2 linked regions of the Homo sapiens genome follow. The protein of the gene in region 2 interacts with the protein of the main gene of each other region in a pairwise test. Each region holds a gene or a part of one and is shown on either strand. Other genes may lie near its edges. The genes, in order: DPPA2 and SETD5.

Region 1 (3,819 bases), about 100 Mb from region 2:
AAAAGTTACTGGGAGATGATGACTTACAGGATAATGTAGACATAAAATCTTTCATGGTCTGCTCCTCCACTCCCCAAACTCATTTCTCAATATAAGCTTCAATCACATTGACTAACTGGCAGTTTCTAAATATATTATATTCTTTATTTATTTTTAGTAGAAACAGGGTTTCACCATGTTGGCCAGGCTGGTCTTGAAGTCCTAACCTCAGATGATCTGCCCACCTTGGCCTCCCCAGGTGCTGGGAATACAGGCATGAGCCACTGCAACTGGCCATCATATTTTTTATTTCCCTGTGTTTGTACTGACGACTTCCACAACTGGTAAGCTCTTCCTCAGAACGTGTAATCTTCTCTTAAGTTTCCCTAAGCTATTCCAATATAGATTCTTCCCATATATTTTCATAGCTTTTCTTACTCTTTTTTTTTTTTTTTGAGACGGAGTTTCACTCTTGTTGCCCAGGCTGGAGTGCAATGGCACAATCTCAGCTCACCGCAACCTCTGCCTCCCGGGTTCAGCGATTCTTCTGCCTCAGTCTCCCGAGTAGCTGGGATTACAGGCATGTGCCACCACGCCCAGCTAATTTTGTATTTTTAGTAGAGACGGGGTTTCTCCATATTGGTCAGGCTGGTCTCGAACTCCCGACCTCAGGTGATCCGCCCGCCTCGGCCTCCCAAACTGCTGGGATTACAGGCATGAGCCACCGCGCCTGGCCTTCTTACTCATTTTTAGTTGAGTAGGCTAGATGGATTTTGTTTTTGCATTCCAAGGTGAGTATCTGACATGTATTAAAAACTCAAATGTGTGTTTTTTTCCTTTAGAACAAGTCTCTAAAATTGAGGCAGAAATCAGGTCCTGACTTGTCAGATGCTTTGTTAAGGCTAAGAACTAGCCACATTTAGGCACAGCACGGTGGCTCATGCCCTTAATACCAGTACTTTGGGAGGCCGAGTTGGGTGGATGTCCTGAGGTCAGGAGCTTGAGACCAGCCTGGCCAACATACTGAAACCCTGTCTCTACTAAAAATACAGAAATTAGCCGGGCACGGTGGCTCACACCTGTTATCCCAGCACTTTGGGAGGCCGAGGCGGGCGGATCATGAGGTCAGGAGTTTGAAACCAGCCTGACCAACATGGTGAAACCCTTTCTCTACTAAAAATACAAAAATTAGCTGGGCGTGGTGGTGCATGCCTGTAATCCCAGCTGAGACTCGGGAGGCTGAGGCAGGAGAATCGCTTGAACCCAGGAGGCAGAGGTTGCAGTGAGCTGAGATCATGCCACTGCACTGCAGCCTGGGCGAGAAGAGCAAAACTCCATCTCAAAAAAAAAAAAGAACTAGCCACATTTATTGAGTTGTAATTCACTAGTGAGTTCTTCTTGCATCCTATTTTTGCCTGATCTATGTGGCAAATTAAGAAGACAGCATGTTCGCCCTCTGCTTTCTACTGTTAAATTATTTAGAAATCCATCTATACACCTACTTTTCTGTGTGCCATGCTTAACAAGATACATAAGGGTTACCTCTTAGCACAGTCGGGGCATAACATATTATCTTCTATGCCTGGGGATGGGAAAATGCAGGCAGGTAACAAGAAGAGAGAAATCATCCTCCTGTGAGTGGTAGGCACCCAGGCCTGACCTGCATGAAACTGCAGGCGTACCCAACCCTTTGTGTCTGCCGAGAGAAGTCTGCCATGGACCACACACCACCTGACGCCTGGAAAGGAAAAACAAATATAGACAGCAAAAATCAAGATAGCACCCCAACACAACCTCTCAGCAAGTCACTCTTGAATTTGCTCTTGTATTCTGCTCACAAATCAATTGAATGAGATGCATGAAAACCTAGACCACATGACACTATGATCTAATTTCACAAGTTACATAACACAAAGAATAGTAATTGTTGCTGGCTAGGCGCGGTGGCTCACGCCTGTAATCCCAGCACTTTGGGAGGTTGAGGCGGGAGGATCATCTAAGGTGGGGAGTTTGAGACCAGCCTGACCAATGTGGAGAAACCTCATCTCTACTAAAAATGCAAAATTAGCTGGGCATGGTGGCACATGCCTGTAATCCCAGCTACTCGGGAGGCTGAGGCAAGAGAATAGCTTGAACCCGGAAGGCAGAGGTTGTGGTGAGCTGAGATCACACCACTGCACTCCAGCCTGGGTGACAAGAGCAAAACTCCATCTCAAAAAATAATAATACTAATAATAATAAAATAAAATAAAATAAAAAATAATGGTTGCCATTTTGAAATGCTTGTTTTGTGTCCAATATTTTGCTAGGTGATTTATGTGTATTAATACATTTACTCTTAAGTACACTATTAATATTTACCTTCTATTTGCTTTTCTTATTATTTCTTATTCACAGGTGAGATAAACGAAGCTTATGGTGTTAAATATCATAAGTTACTCAGAGCCAAGTCATGGATCCAGGTATTCTGACTGACTTACAGTCCATTTACCTAACCACTACATTGTACTGCCTCAGCTATAGGAAACAGACAAGCGTCTGTTTAAAAGTGTAAGGAACAGGCTGGGCGTGGTGGCTTACGCCTGTAATCCCAGCACTTTGGGAGGCATAGGTGGGTGGATCACCTGAGGTCAGGAGTTCGAGACCAGCCTGACCAACATGGCGAAACCCCATCTCTACTAAAAATACAAAATTAGCTGGGTGTGGTGGCACGCGCCTGTAATCCCAGCTACTCAGGAGGCTGAGGCAGGAGAATCGCCTGAACCTGGGAGGCAGAGGTTGCAGTGAGCTGAGATCACGCCATTGCACTCCAGCCTGGACAACAAGAGTGAAACTCCATCTCAAAAAAAAAAAAAAAAAACGCGTAAGGAACAATTTAAGTAGGGAGATGTGATATTTGCAAGAAAACAAGCAGTACTCTTATGGAACGTCTGAAATTGAGAGAAAGTCAGTATTCTGAAAGACCTACAGCCCATTTACCTAACCACTACATTGTACTGCCTCAGCTACAGGAAACAGACAAGTGTCTGTTTAAAAGTGTAAGGAACAATTTAATTAAGGAGACGGGATATTTGCAAGAAAATAAGTGGTACACTCATGGAACGTCTGAAATTGAGGGAAAGGAGCAGTCACAGTGAATTTACATATCTGTAAATAAGCAGTACATGTAGTGTGATAGCTCCCCGATTAGACTGTGAAACAAGAGAAGATGTGTGTGTTTAGCACAGTATATACCCAGCAGCTAGACATACCTCTGGACCACAGCAGATGCTTAACAATTGCAGAATGAAGAGAAATATAAAATGATAAGTCACTGTGGGATAATAGTAACTCATACAGCATATTATTAAAAATTAGAAAGAGGTGTCCTCTTTGGGAAGGCAGTGCCCCCAGGCACACAGCTTTATGGCTGGACAATGCCTTTGCACAAATTATTAAAAGGTGCCCACTGTCCCCACATAAACGAATGTAGCTTGAAGAGCAGAGGATATGCCAATTTCAACTTCAAGTCTTCCTTCTGGCTGGTTTCCTTGTATGATGAATAATGTGTCCTACCATACTAGTTAGCTGGAATAAAATAGGATCTAGAATACTTCTGGAAATGGGAAAATGGGGGAGTAAAAAAAGGATTCAAGCCAAAAAGGAAGGTGACTTGAGATAGCAGACCCTGGAAATAAAAGCAATAGCAAGAAAAGAAGAGCAGGAGTTGGAGAAAAGTGGAGTTAAGTTATCCTCAAGATTTCTTAGAGGGCCCCAGGCGCGGTAGCTCACGCCTGTAATCCCAGCACTTTAGGAGGCCAAGGCAGGTGGATCACCTGAGGTTGGGAGTTCGAGACCAGC
Region 2 (3,819 bases):
TCCCAATGCTCTCCCAGACTGATGGGTTTGTGGGGGAAACAACAAAAAGAAAAGTACTCTGCTGAGGTCTCAGCATTTAAAAAAAAAAAAAAAAAAAAAATCTCCCCTCATTTGAGCAAACACCTGATTTCGATTTTGAAAAGTGAAATTTTGTAACAGTCACACACAAAGAGAGAAGACTGTGCATATGATAGTTGTAGGACAGGGTAGAAAAGAAGGGGATGCAAGAGGCTGGGGAAAAAAGGAAAACAAATTAGAGGGAAGGAAGGAGGGAAACTCACAGTATTATCTTGTCCAAAAGAAAAGAAGGTCCACTGCAGCACCAGGGATTACACCTGTCATATATTCACTACCCCTACCATGGTTATAACTGAATACAAAATTAGATAAATAAAAACACGCCAGATATTACAGTAAACAAGTGAAAGAAATAAGCTGGCAACCATATGGAATTTAAAAAGATTGTGTACCCCACCTGGGCTGGCTCCAGGGCTCCTCCAGGGGTGTACAACAGGCACAATGCACTGATGGGGAGAAGCCGGTCTGCTCTCATCTCTCATCCAGAACAGTGTTAGGGGTGTGGGTGGCTTGGTAACTCTTTCACTGGGCCCACTCTCACATAAGCATCCCCCAGAGAAATGTGGGGCAGGCCCACACACAATCACAGTCCTGTCGGTGCCACTCCACAAACCTATCTTCCCACTCTTACCCTGCAGTCACAAGTGCATGCTCCCCAATCATGGAGGCGGTCCTGCTCATGGGATCATCAACTCCTGATTAATTGGGAGTAGAAAAAATAAAATTCGAAGCATTCCCAAACCACTCGGTATCCTTCCTAATGAAATTTATTGCCAAAAGCTGGTAAGTAGCAATGCAATTGGCCTATATCATGTCTCATTCCTCCTTTTCTTGTCTACTTACTTCATGGGTTACTGAGCTGTGAAATAGCTTGGGAAGGGGGAGTAGGATGGTAACAGTTGGAGGCTCAGACAATCTACTCAAATAATCTGCTCCCGAATAATCAAGAGCTGACCATGAGCTTTTCTTCAAAGAGCCAGGCACCCTCCAGTTGGTGCAGGTTCCAAGCTTTACTATCCTTGCCTATTTCTTGGTGATCTTAAGACAAAGATAAACAGTATTCTTGGTGGACACACATTGGCCAGATACCTGCTTTTGGAATGGTTGTCTTAGGATGAACATTTACATACCTACCTTTTTTCTTAAGTGCATAAAACCCTAACAGTACTCAGATGGCTTGGGGCTTTGAGATTGGCTCTTTTAACTTTTTTTCCTTTGAAAACTTTTTTTTTTTTTTTTTTTAAATTTAAAAAGATGTCCTCACTGCACAAGTGACTACGGGCTACAGGCAAGGATGGGAGACGGAGGCTTCAACACAACTCATTGCACTTAGAACCGTTACTAACCGAAACACCATTTGCTTGTCAACAATGTACCCTTGACAGCAGGGAGAAACTTCTTTATAGTCTCTGCTTCAGACAAGATTTACAGCTTTCTCCAAGGCCAGAGGCCAATTGTGACCACAAGTCTTGTTTCTTGTCCACCAGACCCAATCCTCTGGCACCTTGTACCCCCCGTTCCTCAGCAATATGCTCGGCCTAGGTTCCAGAGGCAGCTGGAAGGAAGCAGCTATGGGCTCATTCAGTTCTGTTTGCCCAAATCCAGAAGCCCTAGGAAAGTCCCGTCTGAGTCTTGACTCCTGACCCTTGCAGTGGCTGGAGTCGGTACTGGTGCACACCCCCACTCCCACGGTGTGGGTAGTGCTGTGAATTGGAAACCGCAGATACCCTGGAGGCCTGGTAGACAGCTGACTGCCCAGCACTGGGCAGACTGATAGTCCGTAAGTCTGATGGCAATGACGACCTAGAGTTCTGAGGAAAGGAGGTGGAACTCAGAGTTCCTGTGCTGGACTGAGAAACTGAATCTGAGGTTGGCGAGTCTGAGGGTCCCTGCAGGGTAGGGCTAGCAGCACTAGAAGGGCAGCTCCTCCTTGGAAGATTGCTGCCAGTGCTGTTTCCAGAATGTGGCTGGCTGCTAAAATACCCTGGTGTCCCCGTAAATGGGGCCAACGAGTCTGTGGACACAGGGTGGGCGGGGCTGGAATAGGACGTGGAAGAGAGGGATGATTCTGAAGAACCGTGAGAGGGGGGGTTTCCAGGTCTCAGTGCAGTAGTTCGATAACTGTATCCTGGAGACTGTGTAGGATGTCCTCTGAAGGGGGAGGAACTCTGCTGAAGGAGGCTTTGTGATTCTGTCCGAGGACTATCACACTGCAGGAGCTAGACAAAGTTGGGAGGAAACGAATAAGGACGCGAACAAGTCCCTTAAATGGCTGGTGAACATTTATAATACCCTACATTCTTTTTTCTTCATCTTTTAACCATGTATTCTTTTTAGGAAACCAAAGGCAGTAAAATGTCTGTCTTTGATCACCGTATTCATCTTCTGGCATAATTTATTACCTGAGGACAAGCAGATGATGACTTATTTCCAAGGCTGCTGAAACTATATGCAAAGACAGCATCTCAATGGCAAAGGATGACCAGGACAATTTGGGACCCAGAACACACTCCTATGGCTAGAGACCAGCAATTTCTCATCTCACCTGGTAGCTGTATCTGGAAGGGCTGTAAACTGTTGCTCCTTTAGAGAGTGCTGAGCTTAATGTCTCTGGGCCTTCTCCATCTGCAGGGTCTGGAAGGTAACATATATAAAAAAAAATCAACTTGGCTTCTTAGAATAAGTAAGAAAGAGCCATTTTTCATTTAAATCACCAGTGCCATCACCAACCCGTACTGCTCTCTTTGTGACAAATTGGGTGAGTGCAGCATGCCAGAAGGGCAAAATGAGTGGTTAATTATGGGCTATGTTCTAAATGCCTGATGTGATTCCCGTCTTCTTTCTCTTCATCCTTCATCGAGGTAGATTTCCAGGACTTTGGAGAGATGAGAGTTACAGAAAGGTATTCCTTGGGGAAAAAAGAGCAGACAGAGAGCAAGCAATGCTAGATCTTACAAATGTGGTAGCCCAAATGAGCATAAGTGGGCTGGAACCTAGCATGCGGTGGAGCCCAACTGCATCAGAAACTGACTCACCTCAACTCAGCACTAGGCATGAACTGTACAGGACTCGGCTCATGTGTCCCTGAATGTGGTGGCAGCAGAAGGCCATGGGCTCACCTGAGTCTTTCTCTGTGATGTTACTCTCCCATGTGGGAGAGGGCTCTCCCTTTTGGGCCACCCTCACGCTGCTTCGGAGGACCTTGGGGATGCTCCCTCCTTCTCGGAGTCGTTCTACTGATGTGGGAACCATCCTGTAAAGGCAACAGGGTGCAAGTTCAAGCCACAGGACTTAACCAAAACAAATGAAGCCCTAACCAGTGCACAGTGTATTTTCTTAAAACATCCTCTTAAACATTACTTTCTTCAGAACCAATTTAAAACAACGTATTTCCTCTGCCTCCAACTATGTCAGGCACAAAAGAGAAACATCAACAACAACCACTTTTAAAGAAAAAGAAATCAAGGAAAAAGTGGGTTAAAGATGTTAACTTCCCTTAACCCCCATTTAAAATGTTAAAATTTCTCCTTTAGGAAATCATGTGCCTGATACACAGTACTGGTTTAATAAAGGTTTCATAGATTAATGAACATGAAACATTTGAGCCAGGACTGTTCTTTCCCAGACTTATTTTTTTCAGTTCAAGATCCCTGAACTCCTGTGCTTCATTCTCTATTTCACACATTTGATCCTCAGTATTTGCCACCAGTATTATTCATTTTTAAATTTGTGGTCTCCCCT

What was found.
Region 1: the proteins of SETD5 (region 2) and DPPA2 interact in a two-hybrid assay, tested with the Homo sapiens proteins (one large-scale study listed by BioGRID and IntAct).

Annotation. Positions count from the first base shown.
Region 1 is NC_000003.12:109,302,954-109,306,772, forward strand, and holds part of DPPA2 (developmental pluripotency-associated protein 2), read right to left. Parts: intron 1,718-3,819; coding exon 1,522-1,717; intron 1-1,521. UniProt on the Homo sapiens protein: Binds to target gene promoters, including NKX2-5 and SYCE1, but not GATA4, and may be involved in the maintenance of the active epigenetic status of these genes.
Region 2 is NC_000003.12:9,473,961-9,477,779, reverse strand, and holds part of SETD5 (histone-lysine N-methyltransferase SETD5), read right to left. Parts: intron 3,332-3,819; coding exon 3,198-3,331; intron 2,713-3,197; coding exon 2,624-2,712; intron 2,481-2,623; coding exon of another isoform or gene 2,457-2,480; exon of another isoform or gene 2,298-2,456; coding exon 1,689-2,297; 3' UTR 1-1,688.